Linked DNA regions of Homo sapiens: region 1 is linked to region 2. The links come from fine-mapping of genetic effects on plasma protein levels. A gene starts in region 2. The other region holds a variant in brackets. All regions are shown on one strand. Distances are from middle to middle. Region 1 has its middle 25 kb from the start of EMILIN3. Region 2 holds the start of EMILIN3 (elastin microfibril interfacer 3).

What was found. A credible set is the group of variants that fine-mapping cannot tell apart. PIP is the chance, under the fine-mapping model, that this variant and not a neighbour inherited with it causes the effect. Protein levels are from the aptamer-based SomaScan assay of Sun 2018.
Region 1: its variant is the best candidate, but not a certain one, in a credible set for the plasma level of the EMILIN3 protein (Sun 2018, PIP 0.56).

The regions. Positions count from the first base shown.
Region 1 is chr20:41,386,198-41,398,346 of GRCh38, forward strand. No RefSeq gene overlaps it. Among named protein-coding and RNA genes, the nearest start is that of EMILIN3, 25 kb to the left of the region's middle. RefSeq lists an enhancer at 5,476-6,141. The variant C/A (reference allele first, on the strand shown) is at 6,914.
Region 2 is chr20:41,362,540-41,374,305 of GRCh38, forward strand. It overlaps EMILIN3 (elastin microfibril interfacer 3), which reads right to left and starts at 4,279. Exons shown (of 4, transcript NM_052846.2): 1 at 3,929-4,279; 2 at 2,496-2,618; 3 at 1,099-1,322; 4 at 1-515. The coding sequence starts at 4,095. It also overlaps the pseudogene LOC124904985. RefSeq lists an enhancer at 3,016-3,517.

The DNA of each region.
Region 1 (12,149 bases), 24 kb after region 2:
TGGTCTTGAACTCCTGGACTCAAGCGATCGGCCTGCCTCAGCCTCCCAAAGTGCTGGGATTACAGGCATGAGCCACTGTGCCTGGCCTCATTGTATAATTCTTTCAACTTTTCTGTATGTTTGAAATTTTTCATCATAAAGTGTTGGGGGGGGGGATAAAATTTCCATTTGAAAATATTAGCTAGACATTTCTCATAAAATCTTTCTTCATTGCTAGATCAAGGTTGCCACGAGACTATGCCAAGTCAATTGTCCTTGTGTCCCCCACCAATATGCCCAGGAAGAAAGAGTAGGGAGACAATTCCGAAAGAGGCCTTGAGGGTGCTAGGGAGTTCTAGGGACTAGCTAAGGCGTTTGGGCTCTGTGTTTGAGGAAACTGAGGCTCAGGCTGTTTTGCGTTGCTGTTTAGAATCCAGGGAAGTCCAGGATGTTTTTTCTTAAGCCATGTTGGGGTGCTTAGGCTCAGTGGAGAAGCGGGGCATGGCCATATGAATGATATGCAGTTGGCAGCACATAGTAGGCACACAAGTGTTTGCTGAATGAATATTTACATGAAATTGGAAAGGAGCCTTCCAAAGATGGAGCCAGCAGGAGACAGTGAAGTTGCCTGTGCGGGCCGGGGGAGTCTGTCTCTGTCTCTGCCCCAGCCCACCTCTGGCCTGGCCTGAGTACCTTGAGAAGTGGGCCCAGGAGAGGCCCCTGGATCCCTGGGTTCCTGGACAGCCAGGGTGAGGGCGCTTTGCCACATTCTTAGGAGAGAGCACATCCAAAACAATTTCTTTTTCTAAAAACTCAGTGCTAACGGATTCCAGATGTCCGTTTGTTATATAATGGGGTTTGTTTTAATAGCGTCAACTTCCAGATGTGCAGCCTGGAATCAAGAAGCCCATTGGCCCCCTGAGGACACTGTGAGCCAAGCTGAGAGCTGCCCGGGGGAGAGACATGGACGTGCAGAACCAGGGATGGGAGAGGAGCCAGGGTGCCTTCTTGCTGCCCACTGGGCTGCTCACCTGCCCTGCAGCTGTCCCCAGACTGAAAGACAGGAAGGGTGTTCCCGCTTCCTTTTTTTTCAGTCCTGACTCTGAGCAGGGGCTCCCAGGGGACAATCATAGACAGGCAGCTTGGGGAGGGTCTGCTTTGGAATCTGGTTCAAGCAGGCCTAGCTGGATGAGCCTGGAGAAGTCCTTGGCCTCCCTGTCTTTGAATGGAAAATAGAATAACGCCATTCTACCCAGAGAGGTCATTGTGCAAAATGAAATGAAGTAAGCAGCACAGCACGGGGCTCAGAAAGCCTTGACTTTCCCTGAGTGGAGAGAACAGGGGCCCAAGTCACCGAGCATCCTCCCCTACTCCTCTCAGCAACACGGATGCCCCTGGGCAGCACGGGCTGCATTTTCCCTGGAACACTGGAAAAGAGCCAAGGTGGGGAGCTCACCACCTCCCCCAGTGGCTTGTTCCATGGCCCTGCAGCTCCAACGGATAGAACATTCTTCCGTTCACTGAGCCAAAGGCGGCCTCTGTGTGACCCCCAACTGGTCTGAGTTCTGCTCTCTGGAGCTCTGCTGAGCAGGCCACACCCTCTTTCACCTGATACCCTCGAGTATGGGAAGACAGAGACCGAGTCTCCCAACCCTTTTCCTAGTAGGCAGCTGCAGTTATGACATCAGATGGACGAAGATTAAGATGCTCTAAGGAGAGATGTTCAAAATCCCAAACAAGAAAAGTCTCAACGTCTGGGGGAATGATTCTGTGGTTCTCCCTGTGTAGATGTTAATAAAATCTGTATGCCTTCACTCCAATTCAAAGAGAAAAGGGCCAGGCTCACGCCTGTAATCCCCACAATGGGAGGCCGAGGAGGATCACTTGAGCCCAGGAGTTTGAGATCAGCCTGAGCAACATAGAGAGACCTGTCTCTACTAAAAATAAAAAAATTAACCAGGGGTGGTGGCATGTGTCTGTGGTCCCAGCTAATTGGGAGGCTGAGGTGGCAGGATCACTTCAGCTCGGGAGGTCGAGGCTGCAGTAAGCCATGATTGTGCCACTGCACTCCACCCTGGATGAAAGAGCAAGACCTTGTCTCAAAAGGAAAAAAAGAAAAGTCACAAAATCTGAATGCAGTCACAGGGGTGAGGTGTCCACAAAGAGATAAAGTCATCATCTTCTCCAAATGAATCTATACACACAATGCCCTTCCAACAAATTTCCAATCAAATTGGTGGGGGTAGGGAGAGGGTGCAATATAAAGTTGAACGTTAAGTGTAGAATACTCACCATGTCTCCGCAGATGAAAAACATTAAAGCGGGACTTACCCTCTCAGCTGTTAAAACACAGGTAACACTAAAATACATTGAACATTATGGTACTTGTGCCGGCGCAGCAGAGAGGGAAATGGCACAGAAAATGGAAACACGAGCAGTAGACCCATCTCCATATGAGAATGTGGAATGTGGCAAAGAAATGCATGTCACACTAAAGCAAATAGGAAATTTCAACAGTGGTTACCTTTGGGGAGAGGGACTTGGCGTGGGACAGTAGTGAGTGAGAGGGAAGTGTTCACTTTTCATTTTGTATCTTTTAGAGTTGTTTTATTTTCCAACCTTATATATTTTTGTTTGTTTGTTTGTTTTTGTTTTTGAGACAGAGTCTTGCTTTGTTGCCCAGGCTGGAGTGCAGTGGTGCAATCTTGGCTCACTGCAACCTCTGCCTCCTGGGTTCAAGCGATTCTCCTGCCTCAGCCTCCTTAGTAGCTGGGACTACAGGCGCACACCACCATGCCTGGCTAATTTTTTGTATTTTTAGTAGAGACGGGGTTTCACCGTGTTAGCCAGGTTGGTCTCGATCTCATGACCTTGTGATCCGCCTGCCTCGGCCTCCCAAAGTGCTGGGATTACAGGTGTGAGCCACGTGCCCTGCCATATGTATTCTTTTTTTTAAAAAAAGCCAACATATATATATACCTATATATACACACACGTATACATATATACACACATATACATATATATGCATATATATATATATATATATTTTTTTTTTTTTTTTTTTTTTTTTTGAGACAGGGTCTCACTCTGTTGCCCAGGCTGGAGTGCAGTGGCGTGATCTCAGTTCACTGCAACCTCCTTCACCTGAGAAGCCAACATGTTTTTATGCCAAAATATGTTCCAGAGGTTTTGATCCCTTTTGGGTTTTCTCTTTTGAATATTTCTGCACTTAAGAGAAACCTAGTAAGTGTTATAACACGAATAATAATAGGATCTATAACAAATGATGAACAGTTATTGCCTCTACCTCAGGGAGGTAAAAGGGGAGGGCTTTTACTTCCTTAGCCATACATTTCCACACTTCTCATCCCCCTCCTGCTCGTTCCTCTTCTTTTTTCTGGATAGCATGTATAACTTTAAAAATCGAGGAGAGGGGGGAATTGAAAATTTGAAAAAAAAAAAAAAAACAGGGCAGAAATGATGGATTACTTAAGATGTGGGACTGGACAACTGGCTAACAATTTGGAAAAAAGTTAGATTTCTACCTTAAATCTAAATATACTGCAGATGGCTTAAAGATTTAAATGCTAGAAGGTAAACCATAAAAGAATCCGAATACTTACACAATTTTAGGATAGGGGACAACTTCCTAAGAAGACATCATATGAACAGACTGATAGATTTCATGACATAATAATGGGAGGCTTCTTTCTAACAAAACATAATAAAATAAGGTCAAACTGTGAAAAAAAAGACAAACAATATTTAACAGAGGATCAAGCATTTTAATATAGAAAAAGCTCTTACAAGAATTCCTGCCTCATAATTGTTTTCCCTAAGCCAAGAATGGGGGGGAATTTGACCACAGTGAAATCAGGGTTTCTAAGGGCAGGAGGAAGGTAGGAGGGGAGGGGCTGAACGGAGTTTTCAGGATGGGGGTGGACAGCTCAGGGGGACAGCTCCAGGGCCAGGGTTGGGTGACCTCCATGTGGCAGGGGTTCCCCACTCTCCCTGGCATTCACAGTCTTATCTGGTGCCAGTCACTTCCCCAGCCAGCCTGACCTCCCTGCCTGGGACATTTAACATTTTGCCATCTTCCTCACACATCAGGCATTTCCCTGTTTCCATGACTTTTGCAAATGCTGGTCCTTCTGCTTGGCTCACTCTCTTTCATCTCTACCTGAAAAAAAATCCAACTGCTCCTTCAAGGCTCAGCTCAAATATCCCCTGTTCTGCAAAACTGTCTTTAATCCATCTGCCCCCACTGCCCCCAAGGAACTCCCCTTGGGCTCCTATGGCAACTGCCCATCAGTCTATTCAGCACTTACTATACAGCATTGTCATTTTCTGCTCACTGGCTCACTCTAGACAGGGAGCTCCAGGGACCCCTTTCCCCTTCTCCAGGTCCGGCAAAGAGCAAGTGCTCAATTAATATTTCATGAACAAATGCATCGTACTGTGAGTGACAGAGCAGGGCAACTGAACTGACACTAGTTGAGCTTCAGGTTCAGTCCATTTCTTTTATATTTTTTGAGACAGGGTCTTGCTCAGTCACTCAGACTGGAGTGCAGTGGCATGATCATGGCTCACTACAGCCTTGAACTCCCGGGCTCAAGCAATCTTATCACCTCAGCCCCCTAAGTAGCTGAGACTACAGGTATGTGCCATTGTGCCCGGCTAATTTTTTATTTTTTGTAGAGATGGGGCCTTGCTATGTTATTAAGGCTGGTCTCAAGCTCCTGGCCTCAAGAGGTCCTCCTGCCTGAGCCTCCCAAAGTGCTGGGATTATAGGCATGAGCCATTGTGCATGACTGATTTATTTCCTAAAACAGCATGCTTTTATTTAAAATAAGGGCAAGTTATTTAACTATGATGCAATTAAGAGAAATAATTATGTATAATTCAATTATGATGCAATAATTTATCATAACTGCATCATAGTTAAAAGATGCCAAGTTACTGTAAGATCAGAAGACCTACGCTAAGGCACAGTGGTACGTGAATGCACTTGAACTATTGAAAGCCGCTGTCAGACTCCACAATGGCTTTCATTTTTATTTATTTATTTATTTATTTATTTATTTTATTTATTTTTTATTTTTATTTTTGAGACAGAGTCTCGCTCTGTCGCTCAGGCTGGATGGAGTGCAGTGGCGCGATCTCGACTCACTGCAAGCTCCGCCTCCCGGGTTCACGCCATTCTCCTACCTCAGCCTCCCGAGTAGCTGGGACTACAGGCGCCCGCCACCACGCCCGGCTAATTTTTTGTATTTTTAGTAGAAACGGGGTTTTACCGTGTTAGCCAGGATGGCCTCAATCTCCTGACCTCGTGATCCGCCCGCCTCAGCCTCCCAAAGTGCTGGGATTACAGGCGTGAGCCACCGCGCCCGGCCCATTTTTAAAACATTTATAAACAAAAGAGGTTTAATTGACTCATAGTTCTGCATGACTGAGCAGGCCTTAGAATCATGGTGGAAGGCAAGGAGAAGCAAGGCACATCTTACATGAGGGCAGGAGGTGGCGGGGCAGAGAGAGAGAGCGCGCCTCAATGGCTTTCAATAGTTCAAGTGCATTCACACCAGGCGCATTCCTGCGCTTGAGATTCCTAGCATCAGCCAGGAGCGGCTTAGTGGGAGAAAGAGCTGCGACGGTGATGATAGTGACATTCCAAAGTTTTGTGGCAACATGAAGGAGGAGGTGTGTCTGCGCTTGCACAGTGACTGCAGCCCTTGGGCAGATGTGGAGAATGTGTGAGGCTAAAGGCTCCCACGCAGCATGGGGCATGGGGAGCCTGAATGTAAGCCCCAGGGCAGGAAGTTTTGCCTATTTGCTCACCGTGTAATCTCCAGCATCTAGAATAGCATAGTAGGCCTTTGGTAAATATCTGTTGAATGGAAGGACTAAAATTAGTTCTGGAAGTGTCTGGGGATGGGGCTTAAGTTACCTCTGCAGGGTCTCCAAGGCTAAATCCTTTTCCTGAGTTAGAAAAACAGGGCTGTTCTCACTGAAGTTTTGGCCTTCAGAGTGTGATGAGGAGTGCAAAGGGGCACGGGGCAGCTTCAAGGACAGGGCTGGGACCACAGAGGGTGAGAAAAGGGCACAAGGGAGGAGGGGTGCTCCCAAGATGGCAGCCCCTAGAGATCTGGGCTGGGTCTTGCTTTCCTCCCTGGGGCCAGTGCAGCAGGAGAGGGTGCTGGGTAGGGGTGCTGGGGGCTGAGAGGACCAACCCAGCTTCACCAGGCCCAGAAGAGAAGATGCACACAGGGAGAAGGCAGCTGTATGCAGTGGGCTCAATAAAGAGGATTTGGGCTGGGCGTGGTGAGTCATGCCTATAATCTCAGTGCTTTGGGAGGCCAAGTGGGGAGGATGGCTTGAGGCCAGGAATTCCAGACCAACCTGGGCAACACAGCAAGACCCCATCTCTATGATACATTTAAAAAAAAATTAGCCAGGTGAGTGGTGCACACCTGTAGTTCTAGTTACTTGGGAGGCTCAGGTGAGGGGATCAGTTGAGCCCAGGAGTTCAAGGTTGGTTACGGCAAGCACTCCAGCCTGGGTGATGGAATGAGAAATGAAACCCTGTCTCTAAATAAATAAATAAATAAAAAGATTTGCCTCTGTATAACAGGAGTTTGAATTTAGGGCTCAAAAAGTCAAGTACATTCTCAAAATCACTCAGAGAGTGACAAAATCAGGATTCAATTTCACATCTTTCTAATTCCAGAGCCTGACTTTTTTTCACTCCGCTAAAAAAAGTGACGTCACAGGCACATGGCAGGCATGGAGCCCCAGGCGAGCCAGGTCTCAGTCTGGGTCAGTGTAGCCCCAGGGCTGGGATCAGAACCACAGTCGTTCTGGAGACAGGGCCAAACTAGGGTTAGAGGTCAGGGAGGCCAGGCCTGAGAACAACAGGCTTTCCGGGCTTTGTGCC[C/A]CCAGCCAGACACAGTGTCCTGGGATTGGTGGCAGGGCCTGCTGGAGCCCCCAGCTCCCTCTTTCCACCCCCCATCTAGGGCCTGGCCTGACCTTCCTCCCCAGGGCAAGGAACTGGCCTGGCTCTTATCCTGGAGGAGGCTGCAGCTGCTCCTGCAGCCCTGGTCCCAGCAGACAAAGGCGCTTTCTTTCCTAGTACAAGGTCTTGATTGCATGTTGCCCTGGATCCAAAAGTTCCTATGGAGGAAGCAGTTTCCTCCCAGGGTGTGTGTGTGTGTGTGTGTGTGTGTGTGCACGCACGTGTGTGCTGGGTTTCAGGGAGTTGGGCTGTCAGGGAGTGCAAGCCCTCTCCCAGCCTCCTGGGTTTAGCCTGGCATTGCTCAATCTGCATCCTTTGTGTACATCTCTAAGTGTCTATGCATGTGTGTGTACGTGGTGGTGTGTGATTGTATGTATGAGCATGTTTGTGCATGTCCCTGCAGCTGCAGGTGCGACTGCCTAGTATGTACCTGTGCATATTTCTGTACACATCAGCACATGCTTATACACAGTCGCAAGCCTACGTATCTGTGTAACTTGTGTCTGTGCCCACATGCGTTTGGGGGTGTATGCATATGTTTCATGTGTGTGTCTACATGAGACACCTGGTACCAGGTCCCTAACTCTGCTGCCTCTGGCTGTGCCTCCCCACACCCTCTGCTGCTGTGTGGGGGCTCTGCAGTATGCAAGTCCTCCTAAAATAGCCCCCTTTCTTCTTCCCAACCCCCGGCCCCGCCTCTGCATTTGTCTGGGAACAACCTGGCCTCTTTCAGCTCTGGGAGGAAGACAGGTTTGTACAGCTTGGCTTGGCCCATACACTTTCCAAAACTCTCTGGCTCCCAGCCAAACTCTTTATAAAAAGGCTCATGGGGAATAGCCTAACAGGAAGGTGGGAACTCTGCCTGGGGGGCTCAGGAACCCTGCTCCAAGCCCCAAGATTAAATGGGAGCATCAGTCAGCTGAACTTCAGCCAGAGACGGCCCTGCAGCCTGAAGGTGAACTTGGTCAATGGACCCTTCACCCCCAAAGATGGGGACACAGCATCTCAAGGTCTCATGTCCAGGGTGGCAGAGCTCGGAGGGGTCCCAGGGCTCAGGCAGCTCAACTCCCCATGGGCACACTGGAGGGAGAGGCCCAGAGTGATGCCCCAGACCAGGCAGGAGCTGAGCCACTTCCTAGCATCCTGCAGCCCCAGGCCCTGGTGACCCTGCCATGGATAACCCTGGGTCTGCCTCTTCTGCAGGGAGGTGGGTGCCACTGCCAGACTTCAGAGTAGCAGGCTCTGAGCCTGGCTGGCCCTTTTGCTCAAGGCCTCCTGAGTCCATATCACAAAGTCAGTGTTTGAGCACAGGGTTGGTTTACCCAGCACTTGCCTTACTTGGGGTGCAGGGGACCTCAAGCTGTTTCTCCTAGTCCCACTGAGGCACAAGAGAGGGGCTTTCTGTACTGCTATCTCCCCTACTGGGGCTCAACCCAGTCTTTTTTTTTTCTTTGAGACTGAGTCTCACTCTATTGCCCAGGCTGGAGTGCAGTGGTGCAATCTTGGCTCACTGGAACCTCCGCCTCCCGCGTTCAAGTGATTCTCCTGCCTCAGCCTCCTGAGTAGCTGGGATTACAGGCACGCACCACCATGCCTGGCTAATTTTTGTATTTTTAGTGGAGACGGGGTTTCACCATGTTGGCCAGGCTGGTCCCGAACTCCTAATCTCAAGCGATCCACCCAACTCGGCCTCCCAAAGTGTTGGAATCACAGGTGTGTGCCACCGTACCTGGCCTCCACTGGGTCTTAAGGGTGCCCTAGGGTGAAGATGGGAGGGCAGTCCAATGGGTAAGACCCTATCTCAAGTGGATGCTCAGGGCACAGGTGGCACCCCCCTCACTGGTCTGTCACAGGAGACACAGGGGCTGCTGCTGGAGATGCCACAGCCGTGTGGGAGGGGCAGGCTGGTGGGGCAACTGAGGAAGAGGATCCCAGAAGCCTGGGTTCAGACATGGCTCCAGGGGGCTCCTGGGTGCTGGAAACAGACGAGACACCCTCAAAGAGGCTGGTTCCTTCAGTCCATCCCCACTGACCGCTGCCAACCACCCCTTTCCTCTTCCCTTCAGAAACCTTTTTCCAGGCGGGAGGGATGGTAGCTGGGAAGCTTTGCTCTTATCTGGCATGTGCCCAGGCCAGGCACCGAAACTCAAAAGCCAAGCAGAGAATCTTTTTTTGTCTGCTTCCGATTGTCGTACCTTGTCCCTGAGAGACACTCATGGACCAGCCCAGCTTGAAAAGGAGCCAGAGAACACAAGAAACAACCAGTAACTCCAAAGAAAGGTCAGGGTTTCAAGAACATTGTGCCCCCCCGGTTGACTGTGCAGAGCAAGTACCTCTTTGGATGGAGGTTTTATTTCTTTGAACTCTTGTTCCTTACAGAGGCTGGGAGTGGTTGGGCCCACAGGGTGGGGGTGGTGGACTCCTTGTCCTTGGGCCTGTTTTGGGGATGCTGGGTTGCGCACTGGGAGTGGAGTTGGTGGGGGCTCTGAATTCTCCCACGCTCAGTCTAGGGATGGGAGCTGCCTCTTTCTTCCCTCATGGGATGCTAATTATCCTCAACTTGTCTGGGAGAAGAAAGGAAGTAGCTGCAGGGGCTTAGCCAGGAGGAACACCTGCTCCCCTGCCCCACCGCCCTCCAGCTCTCCCTCCCTCCCTCCTTCCCTCTCTCTCAGATGCACACCAACACTAGGAGTATCCTTATATACGTATGTGCTGCTTCTTGACGGGGAAATTTGACAAGGGACTGGGGTGAGGGTAGGGGTGTCTTCTACCTGGGGAGGCCCAAGGGGCTGCGGCTGGGGCTTTCCTCAGCCTCATACAATCCACCGCCCCGCCCCCAACCCCTGCCCAAGGCACTCACGGTGCCTTGTGCCTCCGGGCTCTTTGCCGGTCTGGAAAGTCTGGGATCTGTGAATGGAAAAGCCTGGGTCAGAGCTGGAGTGGGGAGTGGGTGGGGGTTGGGAGCTGTGTCTACAGAGTTTAGAGTTTTCTTGGTCTGAGCCAGGAAAGAGTCTAAACACCCAGCAGTGCTGAGTCCTTGCCTGCCCTGTGCAGCGTGGACCTTCCTCGGCCCAGCTCTCCTGCCCTATGCAGGCTTTGGGAGTCCCTGAGGATTTTCAAAGAGCCCCAAGGCGCTGGGGACAGAGAAAGGTGAGGCCAGGTTGTCATCCTGAGGGGGAACAGGCACACACAGCCAGCAGGGGCCTGATGGTAGATGAGACCAGGGTGACGTGGCAAAGCTGCTTCAGTCTGGCCACAGCACTGCATCGACCTGGACTCTTGAGCCTCTCCTAGTGTCCTGCTTCTGAGAGCCAGCTGGACATCTCAGTGGGGAACAGGACAGTCACTCTCGAGGCAGGAGGATCGCTTGAGCCCAGGAGTTCGAGGCTACAGTGAGCTGTGATCACACCACTGCACTCCAGCCTGGGTGACAGAGGGAGATTTTGTCTCAAAAAAACAAAAACAAAAACAGACAAACAAAAAAGACTCAGTGTGAAGAGGGGAGGGGGACAGGGCAACTCCAGTGTTTCCTCCAAAGTGAAAGTATGCCCTCGGGTTTGGAGGCTGGCCCTCAAGAAGCATGCCCAAAGCCAAGGGCTTCTTGGAAGCATTTTATCTCAAAAGTAGACATGAATCTTATATTCCACTATGTGATTCATTTTTATACAAAACCATGTTGGAGTTAATATGAAATATATATATATATATATATATATGTATGTGTGTGTGTGTATTTTTTGAGATGGAGTCTCACTCTGTTGCCCAGGCTGGAGTGCAATGGTTCCATCTCGGCTCACTGCAACCTCTGCCTCCTGGGTTCAAGCAATTCTCCTGCTTCAGCCTTCCCAGTAGCTGGGATGACAGGCTCCTGCCACCACACCTGGCTAATTTTTGTATTTTTAGTAGAGATGGGCTTTTGCCATGTTGGCCAGGCTAGTCTCGAACTCCTCACCTCAGATGATCCGCCCGCCTTGGCCTCCCAAAGTGCTGGGATTACAGGCATGAGCCACTGTGCCTGGCCATATGAAATATTTTAAATGAGTTTTTGCATTGAATCTATGAATAAAATTGATGCTGCAGGATGGGGATCGACAAACTTTTTCTGCAAAGGATCAGACAGTATAATAAATATTTTCGACTTTGCAGGCTGTGTGGTCTCTGTGACCACTGCTGTCGTAGCCCAAAAGCAGCTTTGTATAGACAATACACAAAGGAATGAGTATAGCTGTGTTTAATAAAACTTTATTTATGGCCACTAGAATTTGGATTTGGGATCTTTTTTTTTTTTTTTTTTTTGGAGACAGAGTCTCGCTCTGTCACCCAGGCTGGAGTAGAGTGGCGCGATCTCAGCTCACTGCAAGCTCTGCCTCCTGGGTTCACAACATTCTCCTGCTTCAGCCTCCCGAGTAGCTGGGACTACAGGCGCCCGCCACCACACCCGGCTAATTTTTTGTATTTTTAGTAGAGATGGGGTTTCACCGTGTTAGCCAGGATGGTCTCGATCTCCTGACCTCGTGATCTGCCTGTCTTGGCCTCCCAAAGTGCTGGGATTACAGGTGTGAGGGGATTATTTTTATGTTCATGAAATATTTCCCTTTGATTGTCCAATTATTTATAAATGTGAGTCCTGGTTCTTGGCTTGTGGGCCGTAGCTCTCACTCCACCCTGGGAAGAAAGCGTGTTGGGCCTGTGGCTCCACATGCAAAGCCAAGGCCTGAGCAAGAACACTAGATTCTGGAATCAGACCCATCTCTAAATTCTTGTTCTTCCTCATTAGTTATGCCACTGAAGGCAGGTGACAACCTACCTGAGCCTGGTCCTCTCCTGGAGAACGTGTTTTGGAATGAGCTCACAGAAGGCCTGCACAGTAGGTATTGACTAAGCAGTGCTGTGGCCACCTTTAGTGGTGCATGTAGCTGAGCTGCCTGGGTAGGAGGAAGGTCATGGCCAGCAGATGAGTGGGTGAGATGTGCCTCTTCCCCCTCCCTAGTCAGCTCCCCCATCCTTTTCCCCAGGTCATTCTAGCTGAACAGTTGTCCTACTCCCTGCCATCCTTCTTTCCACCTTCCAAGATTGGACACTGCTTCTCATGGGGCTCCTTGGCCCTGGGCTGGTGAGTCCAAGCACTTAGACACTTACTCCCTAGGATAAGCCCCAG
Region 2 (11,766 bases):
CTCCTCACATTGCCGCCGTACCTCCTGCACCCGCAGGTCACACTCACTCTGGACGCCTTGCAGCTTCTGCTCAAAGCCATCCAGCAGGCTCCCCCAGAGTCGGTGCAGCCGTCGGTCCACGTACTCCTCCAGCAGGGCCAGGGAGGTGAGCGGGGATGGTGGGGCTTCCCGCAGCCGCTGCAGGTGGGCCTCATGGCCAAGTGCCAGCCCATGCACCTTGTCTAGAAGCTGCACCTTGGTCTGAAGAGTGTTGCTCACCTCTGTCACCTTGCTTAGGATCTCGTCTAAGGGAGGTGTTAGTGGCCCTCTGGCTCTGTCTCCTGGGCCCACAAGCCCCTCAGGGATGACCCCAAAGCCCACAGGGACAGCAGGAGCCCTGGGGCCACCAGTCATCCTGTTGGGATCCTCGTGGCTAGCCACCAGGCCACTGAGGGTACCATATGTTTGAGCCAGGCGCTGGACATCACCCTCCAGGCGTTCCAGCCGCTCACCAAACAGCCCTGGGCCTTTCCTTCCTGGGAAAGAGAAGAGAGCCCCAGGGGCATCACTGGCCTCACCCTCTCAGCTTGTCACAATGCCAGGCCACCCAAGAGACTTTCTGTTCTTTTTTTTTTTTTTTGAGACAGAGTCTTGCTCAGTCGCCCAGGCTGGAGTGCAGTGGTGTGCTCTTGGCTCACTGCAAGCTCCGCCTTCCGGGTTCATGCCATTCTCCTGCCTCAGCCTCCCAAGCAGCTGGGACTACAGGCACCCACCACCACGCCCGGCTATTTTTTTTCTATCTTTAGTAGAGATGGGGTTTCACGATGTTAGCCAGGATGGTCTCGATCTCCTAACCTCGTGATCCACCCGCCTCGGCCTCCCAAAGTGCTGGGATTACAGGCATGAGCCACCGCGCCCAGCCCAGACTTTCTGTTCTAAGCCTACCTTCTCACTGGGCATAACTCCCTCAGCTTTATGGTGGGGTGAAAGTGGGGCTTGGGGCTTGCCCCTCCCCATCCATGCCGGAGCTCAGCCAGCCTGGGATCAGTCCCCTCCCTGCCCCTGCCACTGAGCCCAAGAAACCCAATCACCTTGGAGGGTCTCCTTGGGCAGACTCACCATGAGGGCTGGGGGCTGCTCTGCTGTAGGAAGGGGGCCTGGGGCCTGGGTCCAGCTGCCCTGAAGGAATCTGAGGCTCAGGCTCCAGCTGGGGTGAGGCAGCCCCATGGTCCGTGAGGTGCTCAGGGCAGCGTTTCCCAGTGAAGCCGGGACAGCAACGCCAGGCGAGGTCTGTCACTGTCTTGTAGCCAACCTTGTATTTGGGTCTGAGTACTGTGCGGTACCTGGGCCAGGGAGGGCAAGAGAGTGGGATCCTGCACCTGAGGGCTGTGCTTCTCCCCCTAGCTGGCACTCAGGGCCGCCCTCAGACACTTGCATAAGGCTGGGTATCTCCCCACCTCCATAGCACCCCCAGGGCTGTACTTTTTCTGTGCTTAAGGTGACAGGGGTGGGTAAGGGCAGGCCTTCCTGAAGCTCACAGTCATGTTAGGGAAGGATGCAGGTAGAAGTCCCACCCATCCTGGTAGCTTGGAGAGAAGCAGGAATTTTGCCCCATCCCTCCCAAGACCACTTGGACCCCCTCTAGCTCAGGCTGCCATGAGAAATTCCACTCAGGCTGCAGTAGCACCTGGGAGAATCAGACACAGCCCCAGCCCTCCCTGTGGGCAGGGAGGGGCACTGCCCTGGAGCTGGCGCTGGCAGCCCCCTCACTGCCCTGGGGGCCACTCTTGGCTCCTACCTGCTCCCCTTAGTTCTTTCCACTCCTCTCTAGCCTGCTCCGGGACCTCGGCTCTGGTCAGAGAGGCAGATGGACGGGTACCTCTGATTGTGAGCAGGGAAGGGAAGGTCCAGGGTACAGGCAGGCTCGCGAGGGTCCATGCCCTCACTGTTCAGCCACGTACCTGTTCACCCACTGACACACCGGAGACAACAGGTTTGTTTCCACACACACACGTGAACCTCTCCAGGTACAGAGCTGTGCATCCCATGTGCGTGCAGCCCTGCTGCTCCGGCTTCCTCTCCCTGCCCCATGGCCTGCCTCCTTGTGGTCACCACAGTCCTCCCTGGGCCTGCCAGGCCCCCCTGTGGCATCACCCGTTGCCTAAGGGGCCCTCTGCTCCCTCCTCTCCCCTCACCTTCTGCCTCTGTCACTTCCTCCTAGCCTTGTGCTGCCTCTGCCCCCAGAACCTTCCCCTTGTCCCTCTGTGGTTCCTGGGCTCCAACCCAAGCCTGCCCCTGTCTGTGCGGGTGATGCTCTGCTGCAAGCCCAAATCCCTGGGGTCCTCCTTGGCACCCTCTTTTCTGGGGCCGCCTTCTACTCTGGCCTGTATGGGGGCTCAGGTGGGCTCTCTGGAGTCCAAGAAGCCCCTTGTGGAGTTGGCAGCTGCTCTCAGCTGAAGGCAGGACTGGCGCTTGTGCCAGGGGATTCCAAGTGTGTAGGTGAGGAGTGCACTTACGTGACTGTCCCGGGGCACTTGGGCCCCCATCTACACTGCCGGTATTCAGCCTTTACGTAGCTCTCCGCTCCCTCCTGTAGGATGCAGGTCACATTCCTGTGCACCACATAGGCACAGAGGGCCCTACAGGAGAAAATGGCACCCCTGGAATATCTGGCTGAGCGAGGCCCACAGAGGCGCCTACCCTCCCACCTCCATCTGTGGGCCTCAGCAGGACTCCAAACTCCCATGTCTCTTCTGTCTGTTCTCTGTGTCCCTGGGAGCCAACGCCCTTGGTCTGGGGTCCAGCCCCGCTGCTGGTCTCTGATTCCAGCCTCCGTGATGGGTGGCCCCTGGGCTAAGCACTATTTGGAACCAGGAGCCTGATGTGGCTGCCCCTCCCTGCGTGGGGAAGAGGCCAGCCCGGATTCTCCCTCAAGTGCCCTGCCACACCCCCCCATCCTTCGCTGATTCCAAACTCCTTATCTTGGCATTTAAGGCTTCCGAGTCCCCACTCAGTGACTCCTTTGAGAGCACCATGTCTTGTCCTTCCTCCCTGCCTGGCTCCCGGGGAAATCCACCTCTCCTCGTAGTTTTGCAGCCCCTGCCTTTGGTCCTGTTCCCTTACTCTCAGAGCAGTTCTTGTACCACCTCCTCCAGGAGGCTCGCTGTGATGTACCCAGGCCCACTGAGTGTCGGTACTCTTCCTCCTACAACAGCTCTCAAATTCAGCTAGAATTCAAGTTCAGCCAGCACCCCAGGCAGAGCCTCCAGCCCACTTAACTGAGGCCAGTTCGCAAGCCACTGCCCACGAAACACCAGAAGCTGAGGCGGGGAAAGCAGGCTCCTTGATGAGCCACAAGGGCTGAGGAGGTGGCTGCCTGGCATAAGCCGACCGCTGTGGACGGCTGTGCCACAGCACAGGCCCGGAGCCAGGAGCCCGCTCTGGCTCTGCAGCCCGGCCACGCTGGGGCTCCCATGGGGTTGCTGGGGCCAGGCTGACTGCGAGAGGGCAGCGGCCGCCCGGATGCGCAGCTCTATCTCCTACCTGGCCGGGCCAGGGGAGAGAAGGGAGGCCCGGGGCGGGGGAGCCCCGCGTGCTCAGCGCGCGGACCGCCTTTCCTCCTCTCCCTCCACCTGGTCCGCTCGCCCGGAGTCTGCACACAGCGCAGCTGGAAAATGTTACTTCGCTGGAAAGGTTTCCGCTGGCACTGCCAGGATCCCAAGCCGCCGCGCCAGGCCCCCTCGGTTCCTTTTTCCTCGCCAGCCCCGCAACCTCCCGGAGCGTAGGGCGCTCGCCTGGGCAGGGGCTCGGCCCCGGGCGCCGCCCCCTCTGTGCAGCGGCCTCGGGGTGCCCGGGGCCTCGACGCCCCCCGCGGGTGCGGGCAGGTGGGAGCGGCGACGCGCGCGGGCCCATCCCTCCCTCTTCCCGCCCGCCGCCCGCCCGCGCTTACTTGTGCGGCCCCGGGCGCAGCCGCGGGCGCCATCCCGTCGTGTAGAGACTGTAGCGGGAGGCACCGGGCGGCGCAGGCCGCGCCAGGAGCGGGGTGCCCCTGGCCTGCGCCCCCGAGAGCAGCGCCGCGACGGCGCACAGCCAGACGAGCAGGCGGCGGCGGCCCATAGCGGCCCCCGCGCCTCTGCCCGGCCCCGCGCGGTGCCCCCCGCCGGGTGTCCGCCTGCAGCGCCGCGCCGCCCCCGCCGCTGGTCGGCCCGGGTCCCGCCCCGAGGGTCCCGGGGTCCCCTTCGGCCCCCGAGCTCGCTGGCCCGGCCGCCTGGCGCTTCGCGGCGGCTGCGTCCCGCGGAGTGGCCGGCGCTGCTAGCGGCTGGGGCCGCGGAGGGGAGGCGGGAGGCGGGCTCTTTGCGGATTAGCATAAACTTGGGGCCGCGCCGCTCGCCGCCGCCAGCCCCTCGCCCCAGCTCCGAGCGGACGGCCGAGGAGCCGCCTGCGAACAGGAGGTTCCAAAGGGAGCAGCCCCAGGTGGCAGGGGCGCAGGCCGCCGCGCCCTGGGAGGCCCCCCGAGCACACCAGCCACTCTGTCGCCTGCGGGCACGGGGCGAGACGCAGAGAAGCGGACCCCTGAGGCCAGCCTGGGCGTGGACTTTCCAGGAGTCGTCCACCCTCAGGATACGCTTGTCTTCAGAGTCCGTGTGAACCCGGGAACTGCTCTCCAGGGCTCTGGAGCCGAGATGGCCGTGACTGGGGGCACAGCAGCACCACCTCCCCCGCCACCTCTTTGGAATAGACCCCAGATCATCCCCGTTTGCTCGCTCTGCCTCCTGGCCCCATCATTGCCCGGGAACCTTAGTTTGATAACTCCGCTGACCTCTCCCCAGGCATCCCACCTCCCCCTTACCCCGCAACCTCTGCCACGTAGCCTGGTGGCCCGGTTGCACCTCTGGTTCTCTGGAGGCGCCTGTGTTGCCTCTCTGTCTTAGGTATGGGTTGCACCGAGCCCGAAAGGCCTATCACCGCCCCAGCCCAGCCAAAAGTGCTGTGCTTTTCGTGCAACTGAAGCTCTAAGCCGGCTGGTCAGAGAAAATCCTCAGGTCTTTCTCACAAGGCACTGCCGCGGTGAAGCCAGGCGTCGTCCACATTTTGCTTGTGAAGTTGACTCTTGGAACCCAAGAGTTGGGTTTTATCGTCGTCCTCATTCAGTATCACCTTGCTAACTCTCTAACCTGCACAGAGTCCTTCTGATTCTGTCATCAGAGCGGTACTTTCCTGGCCTTGTCTCATCCACACCGGTGGCTACAGCCGTCTGTGTCTTTGCCCCAGGAGCTGATAGGTGTACAGAACTCTGGGGCTTGCTTGGAGAGACCTCCCTCCAAATTGACCTTGAGATATGAATTAATGCCTTTTGGATAGGGTGATGGTTATCAAGGATACTGGAAGGGGCAGCTCCGAAACCCACATCTATTTCCTGCCCTTAGCTTTAGTGGCTTTTGGGTTCTGTGGGGCGGACATCTGACCCCAGCTAGGCCCATCCTGCTTTCCCCCAGGCTTTGGAATCAGAACACAGAAGCTGAAGGAATCCAGCTTCCAGGTGTAGGTTGTGTGAGTTTCTCAGGGCTGTGGTAACAGCCACAGACTCAGTGGCTTAACACACAGAAATGTATTCTTGCACATTTCTGGAGGCTAACTCCAAAATCCATGGGCCAGCAGGGCAATGCCCCCTCCAGTGGCTCTGGGGAGAAGCCTTCCTTGCCTCTTCCAGCCACTGGTGGTTCCTGGCAATCTCTGGCGTTCTTTGGTCAAGGATTCTTTGTAGCAGCATCACTCCAGCCTCTACTTTCCCTCCGCATATCCCTCTTCAGGTGACCTTTTTTTCTCTGTGACTGTGATCTGTGTCCTTTCCTCTTCTTTCTGTTTTTGTTTTTTGAGCCAGAGTCTCGCTCTGTCGCCCAGGCTGGAGTGCAGTGGCGCGATCTCGGCTCACTGCAAGCTCTGCCTCCCGGGTTCACGCCATTCTCCTGCCTCAGCCTCCCGAGTGGCTGGGACTACAGGCGCCCGCCATAATGCCCAGCTAATTTTTTTGTATTTTTTTTTTTTTTTTAGTAGAGACGTGGTTTCACCGTGTTAGCCAGGATGGTCTCGATCTCCTGATCTCGTGATCCGTCCGCCTCGGCCTCCCAAAGTGCTAGGATTACAGGCGTGAGCCACCGCGCCCTGCCTTTCTGGTTGTGTTTTTAAATTTGAGACAGGGCTGGGCGCGATGGCTCATGCCTGTAATCCCAGCACTTTGGGAGGCCGAGGTGGGGGGATCACCTGAGGTCAGGAGTTTGAGACCAGCCTGGCCAATATGGTGAAACCCCATCTCTACTAAAAATAAAAAAATTAGCCGGGCGTGGTGGCGGGCGCCTGTAATCCCAGCTACCTGGGAGGCTGAGGCAAGAGAATCACTTGAACCCTGGAGGTGGAGGTTGCAATGAGCCGAGATCATGCCATTGCACTCCAGCCTGGGTGACAAGAGCGAAACTCCATCTCCATAAATAAATAAATAAATAGAGACAAGGTCTAGCTCCATCACCCAGGCTGGAATGCAGCGTCGACCTCCTGAGCTCAAGTGATCCTCCTGCCCCCACCTCCTCTGTAGCTGGGACCACAGTTGTGCACCACCATGCACAGCTCATTTTTAAAATTTCTGTAGAGATGGGCTCTCACTTTGTTGCCCAAGCTGGTCACAAACTCCTGAGCTCAAGTGATGCTCTCACCTCAGTCTCCCAAATTGCTAGGATTCTAGGCGTGAGCCACTGCACCCAGCCCAGCCTCCTCTTCTTATAAGGACACCAGTCATTGGATGTACAGCCCAACATAACCTCATCTCAAATGATTACGTCTACAAAGACCCTATTTCCAAATAAGGTCACATTCTGAGGTTCCAAATGTTCATGAATTTTGGGAGGGGCACAATTCAATCCACTACAGGGGCACTTGGCTGGTAATGATAGGAGAGACCACGAGAGCTCTGGGGGAATCATGGGAAAGGGAGAAAGAGTGTGGTCAGGGGAGAGAGGGGCAGAGTCAGGGGCTATGTGGTGAGTAACCATCTGGGGACAAGCTGTGACTTCCCTATCTGCTTCCAGTAGTCCACCATTGGAGCTAGCTTGAATGGGTTTCTGATCCCAGCAACCAAATGTGCTCTACAGAGAGAAACTTCTCTAGTCATGAACTGTAGAAATGATCCCTGAAAGTATAGTCTTACAGCAACCACATGGTCCCTAAGACAGCCTTTCACTCTCCCTATAAAAGCACCGAATGTGCTATTATATGCTCCAACCTCTAAGAGAGATGTTATGAACCATTTTGCTGAGGGCAAGATACACCATATCCCCAACAAGCTCTTGATCTTGTAACCACTGACTTTGCGCTTTTTAGGAAGTGAGAAACATCTGAGCCAGCTCCTCATCCTAGGCTGGGTGCTGACTGCCTGGCAGCATTGCCCAGCCTGGCTCTGGGAGGAACTCCCCCACCCCAGAGGCTGTGATCTTTTTCCAAGTGGTCCCACCCCTTCCTCTCACTCCCTTCCCCAGCCCCAGATGTGGGGCCCAAAACTCACAAGGAAGAGGCTGGACCCTGTTTGAGCTTGGAAATATCCACGTCATAGGGGCTAAAAGGATAGCTGGACCCCACTTCCCCCTTTCCCAGGTGGCTGACATCAAACACCATGCTCCCTCTTTCACTGCAACAGTTTTGGGATCCAGGATCTGGGCCCCATTCTAGTGGGGGTGGAGGACCTCAGTACAGGGAGATGCTCAGGGTCTTGGCTGGATCAGGCCAGAGCGGGGGTCCCCCCATAGACGATGAGGCCACTTTGCATCTGCCAGACAGGAAACCTAGGGAGGCCAGAAGCAGAGGAGGAAAGGAGGCAGTCATGTTCCTCTGACTCAGACTGGAGTTTCTACACCTGGATGGAAACGGGCCATACACGGGAGTGGGAGTGCAGTTTCAGTTCACAGGGACATGCACAACCACACCCAACCCATCCCCCATACCACTATCATGCATGTGCATGAGTTTTTCCTTTCGTACAGATGGGGTCTCACTATGCTGCCTAGGCTAGTCTCAGACTCCTGGCCTCAAGTGATCCTCCTGCTTTGGCCTCCCAAAGTATTGGGACTGCAGGGGTGAGCCCTATGCATCCTGCCTTTCTTTTCTGTTCTTTTCTTTTTTTTCTTTTCTTTTTTTTTTTTTACGGAGTCTCACTCTGTTGCCCAGGCTGGAGTGCAGTGGCGTGATCTCGGCTCACTGCAACCTCTGCCTCCCAGGTTCAAGCAATTCTCCTGACTCAGCCTCCCAAGCAGCTGGGATTACAGGCACATGCCACCACGCCTGGCTAATTTTTTGTATTTCTTTTTTTTTTTTTTAGTAGAGACAGGGTTTCGCCATGTTAGCCAGGCTGGTCTCAAATGATCCGCCCACCTTGGCCTCCTAAAGTGCTGGGATTACAGGCATGAGCCACCACATCTGGCCTTTCCTTTTCTTATTGAGGGCCCAGCACATAAGAGTATTAAAAACCACACAAAGTTGTATGGGATGCAGTTCCCCTAAAAGAGACAGAAATAGAAAGCACTGAAGCTGCTGGCTTTCTGGTACAAGCTCTTCCTGCTGCAGATGGACCCCTCCTGCACAGGGACCACAGCCCTTGAAGGCACCAGCCCTAAGGTGCAGCCCTTTGTCCCTGACCATCTCCCTTACCCTCTTTTTTTTTCTTTTTTGAGAGTGCACAGCTAGGCCTCCCTGCCCACAGAGCCACATTTGGAAGTTCTGTGCAGCAAGGCTCTTTGCCCAGGCTCACTTTTTTCTCCACATCATCACCATCAGCATTTTGATTATATCTGCACCATCATAAAAGGTTATACCAAATGCACATGAGTTTCTGAGGCAGGGGTTTGCACTGACCCCATCCAGCTAGGCAGAAGCAGGGCTCGTCCAGGATCCTAGGGGGGATAGATGTGCAGCCTGGAGGCAAGGTCCTGGAAGAGTCCAGAAATCGTGGAAACTGGGCTCTGTAAAGCCTGGACGGACTTCCATTGAGTGAGAGTAGCTTAGGAACAGCTTAGAAATTGTGACTGCTGATGGACTGTCAACATGGACATATGCAAACCAGATGCAACATTACGCAAATTATATACAAAATACATGCACAGGTCTCCCAACTATTGCAAATGCCAGATATGGTCCTTGAGGACCCTAAGTTTAGCTGAGACCTGTTGTGGGGCAGAGAGATCACCCTGGACTTGCCAGTTTCTTTTTTTTTTTTTGAGACTGAGTCTCACTCTGTTGCCCAGGCTGGAGTGCAGTGGCGTGATCTTGGCTCACTGCAACCTCCGACTCCCAGGTTCAAGTCATTCTCGTGCCTCAGCCTCTGGAGTAGCTGGCACTACAAGCGTGAGCCACCACGCCCAGCTAATTTTTGTATTTTCAGTAGAGATGGGGTTTCACCATGTTGGCCAGGCCGGTCTTGAACTCTTGACCTCAAGTGATCCACCTGCCTTGGCCTCCCAAAGTGCTGGGATTACAGGCATGAGCCACTGCACCTAGCTAGGACTTGCCAGTTTTCTTATGGTGGGCAGGAAGGGCTTTGCTCCAAGGTGGTTCACACACTGTGGGGAAGAAATCAGGCAAGGAGTCAATTAGACTCAGGTTTGAATCCCAGCTCTTCCACTCACAAGTTGCATGACCTCCCTTGAGTCACTTCACCCCTCTGAGCCTCTGCTTTCCTATACGAAAATGATTATTATGAGGAATAGATGAGAACTTTGGCCAAGGCTCCCATGTGCACAGTCGTGCACATAACAGACGCCCAGTGAGTGTGGCAGGGCTCTGCACAGAGTCCTTTCTTGGGGGTTGGATATCTGGGCCTCCTTTCTAGTCACTGCAGTAGCAGCTGTGCCCCCTCAGGCTGTGGGCAGGACCTTCTTGCAAAGCAGCACATGCAGCTCTGGGTTTGGAAAATGTCAGTGCTTGGATGGACCAGGAATCCATGTACCTCTCACTCGTCAAGAAATCTGGCAGAGGTCACACTCAACAGGGGTGCTGTGGGTACCCCAGCCAGACTCCCTTTCCCTGGTCAGTGTACCCATGAATCCCCTGGCTGCAGGTGTGATTACTGGGAATGCTCCCAGCTGCCCCTTCTGTGAATTGCCCTTGGCTGAGGAGTGACTGGCTGATAGGGTGAAATGGTTTGGCTGTGTCCCCACCCAAATCTCATCTTGAATTGTAACTCTCACAATTCCCATGTGTCGTGGGAGGAACCTGGTGGGAGGTGATTGGATTATGGGGGCAGGTCTTTCCTGCACTGTTCTCATGATAGTGATTCAGTCTCACAAGATCTGATGGTTTTAAAAAGGGGAGTTTCCCTGCACAAGCGCTCTTTTCTTGTCTGCCGCCATGTGAGATGTGCCTTTCACCTTCCACCATGATTGTGAGGCCTCCCCAGCCACGTAGCTGTAAGTCCAATAAACCTCTTTCTTTTGTAAACTGCCCAGTCTAGAATATGTCTTTATCAGCAGTGTGAAAATGGACTAATATACAGGGGGACAAAAAAGGCAGCCTCCTCGCCTCATGGTGGACAGCCCAGTGTTAGTTTATGTTGCAGAGCCCCCTTGGTCAGGCCCCTCTAGACTCTACCTGGGATCCATTCTTGCTCTATTTCCATCCTCTCCTGTTTTCCTACCTCCCTTATGTATCTCTCCCAGGAGCCCCCTTGATAAATGACTTATAACTAGATCCCTGTCTCAGGATCTGCTTTTGTGGAACCCAACCCAAGAGAGGGGGACAGACCTGCATGCAGAGGGGGACATGAACTTGTATAGTCAGGAACCATAGGGTAGCGTGGGCTCACAGAGGAAGAAGTGCCTGGGTGCCTGAGCTTGGGGGAAGGGATCAGAGGGTGTTTCACAAAACAGGCAACACTAGAGTTCACCGCACGGGGAGAAAGCACCGTGGGTGGTGGGTGCGGCATGTGCATGGCCTGGAGGCAGGAGAGAGCCTGGTATGTATGGGGAACCCCGCAGAGCTCTGGGTAGCCCAGGCTCCAAGAGAGGTTGGCAGGGGCCAGACAAGAGGGGCCTTGAATACCCCAGTGAAAAGTCTGGACTTTACAGCTGGAAACGATGCATGCAGAACTGTCGGGAAAAACATCCTGTGGCTGCAGCTGTGTGGAGCAGACACACGAGGTGGGGTGCCGGTGGGGTGGCCCTGGCAGCTGTCAGCCACCAGGCTAACAGGGACCGAGGGATGAGGAACAGGGCTAGATTCTAGAGGCTTTCAGGACAAAGGACTAAAAGGCCTTGGTGGCTAATCTGGGGCTCTGGGTGTGGGAAGGAGTCTAGAAGGTACCACAAAGAGAGGAGACAAAACATCAGGGCTGAGGCAGGGTTGAATGAGCTGTACAGGGCAGGGGTCTGCATTCCCTGTGCCCACCACAGCTAGAGCCAGGCTGAGCCTCCAGTTGGAAGGTCCGGACACTGACCAGAGTATGTGGCACAGCTGGCCTGACCCCAGTAAGGACCTGGGGCTGCCCCTTGCTGGAGGGGCTGGCCTCCAGGCCTGATTAGGACAGGGATGGGGAGAGGCTGGGGGCGGGGGAGTAGAGTGCAGAGCTGCTCAGGCATTGATGCGGGGGTGTGGTTGCAAGGCCCTGGGAAGGGCTCACCATCAGCTCTCCTCTAACTCTTCTATTCATGGACACCAGAGTAAAAACTACACAAGATTACCCACTGGTGATGGGGGAGGCAGGCTTGCAATGCAGGGTGTGTGCAGAGAGGCCAAAACAAGCAGGGGAGGGGG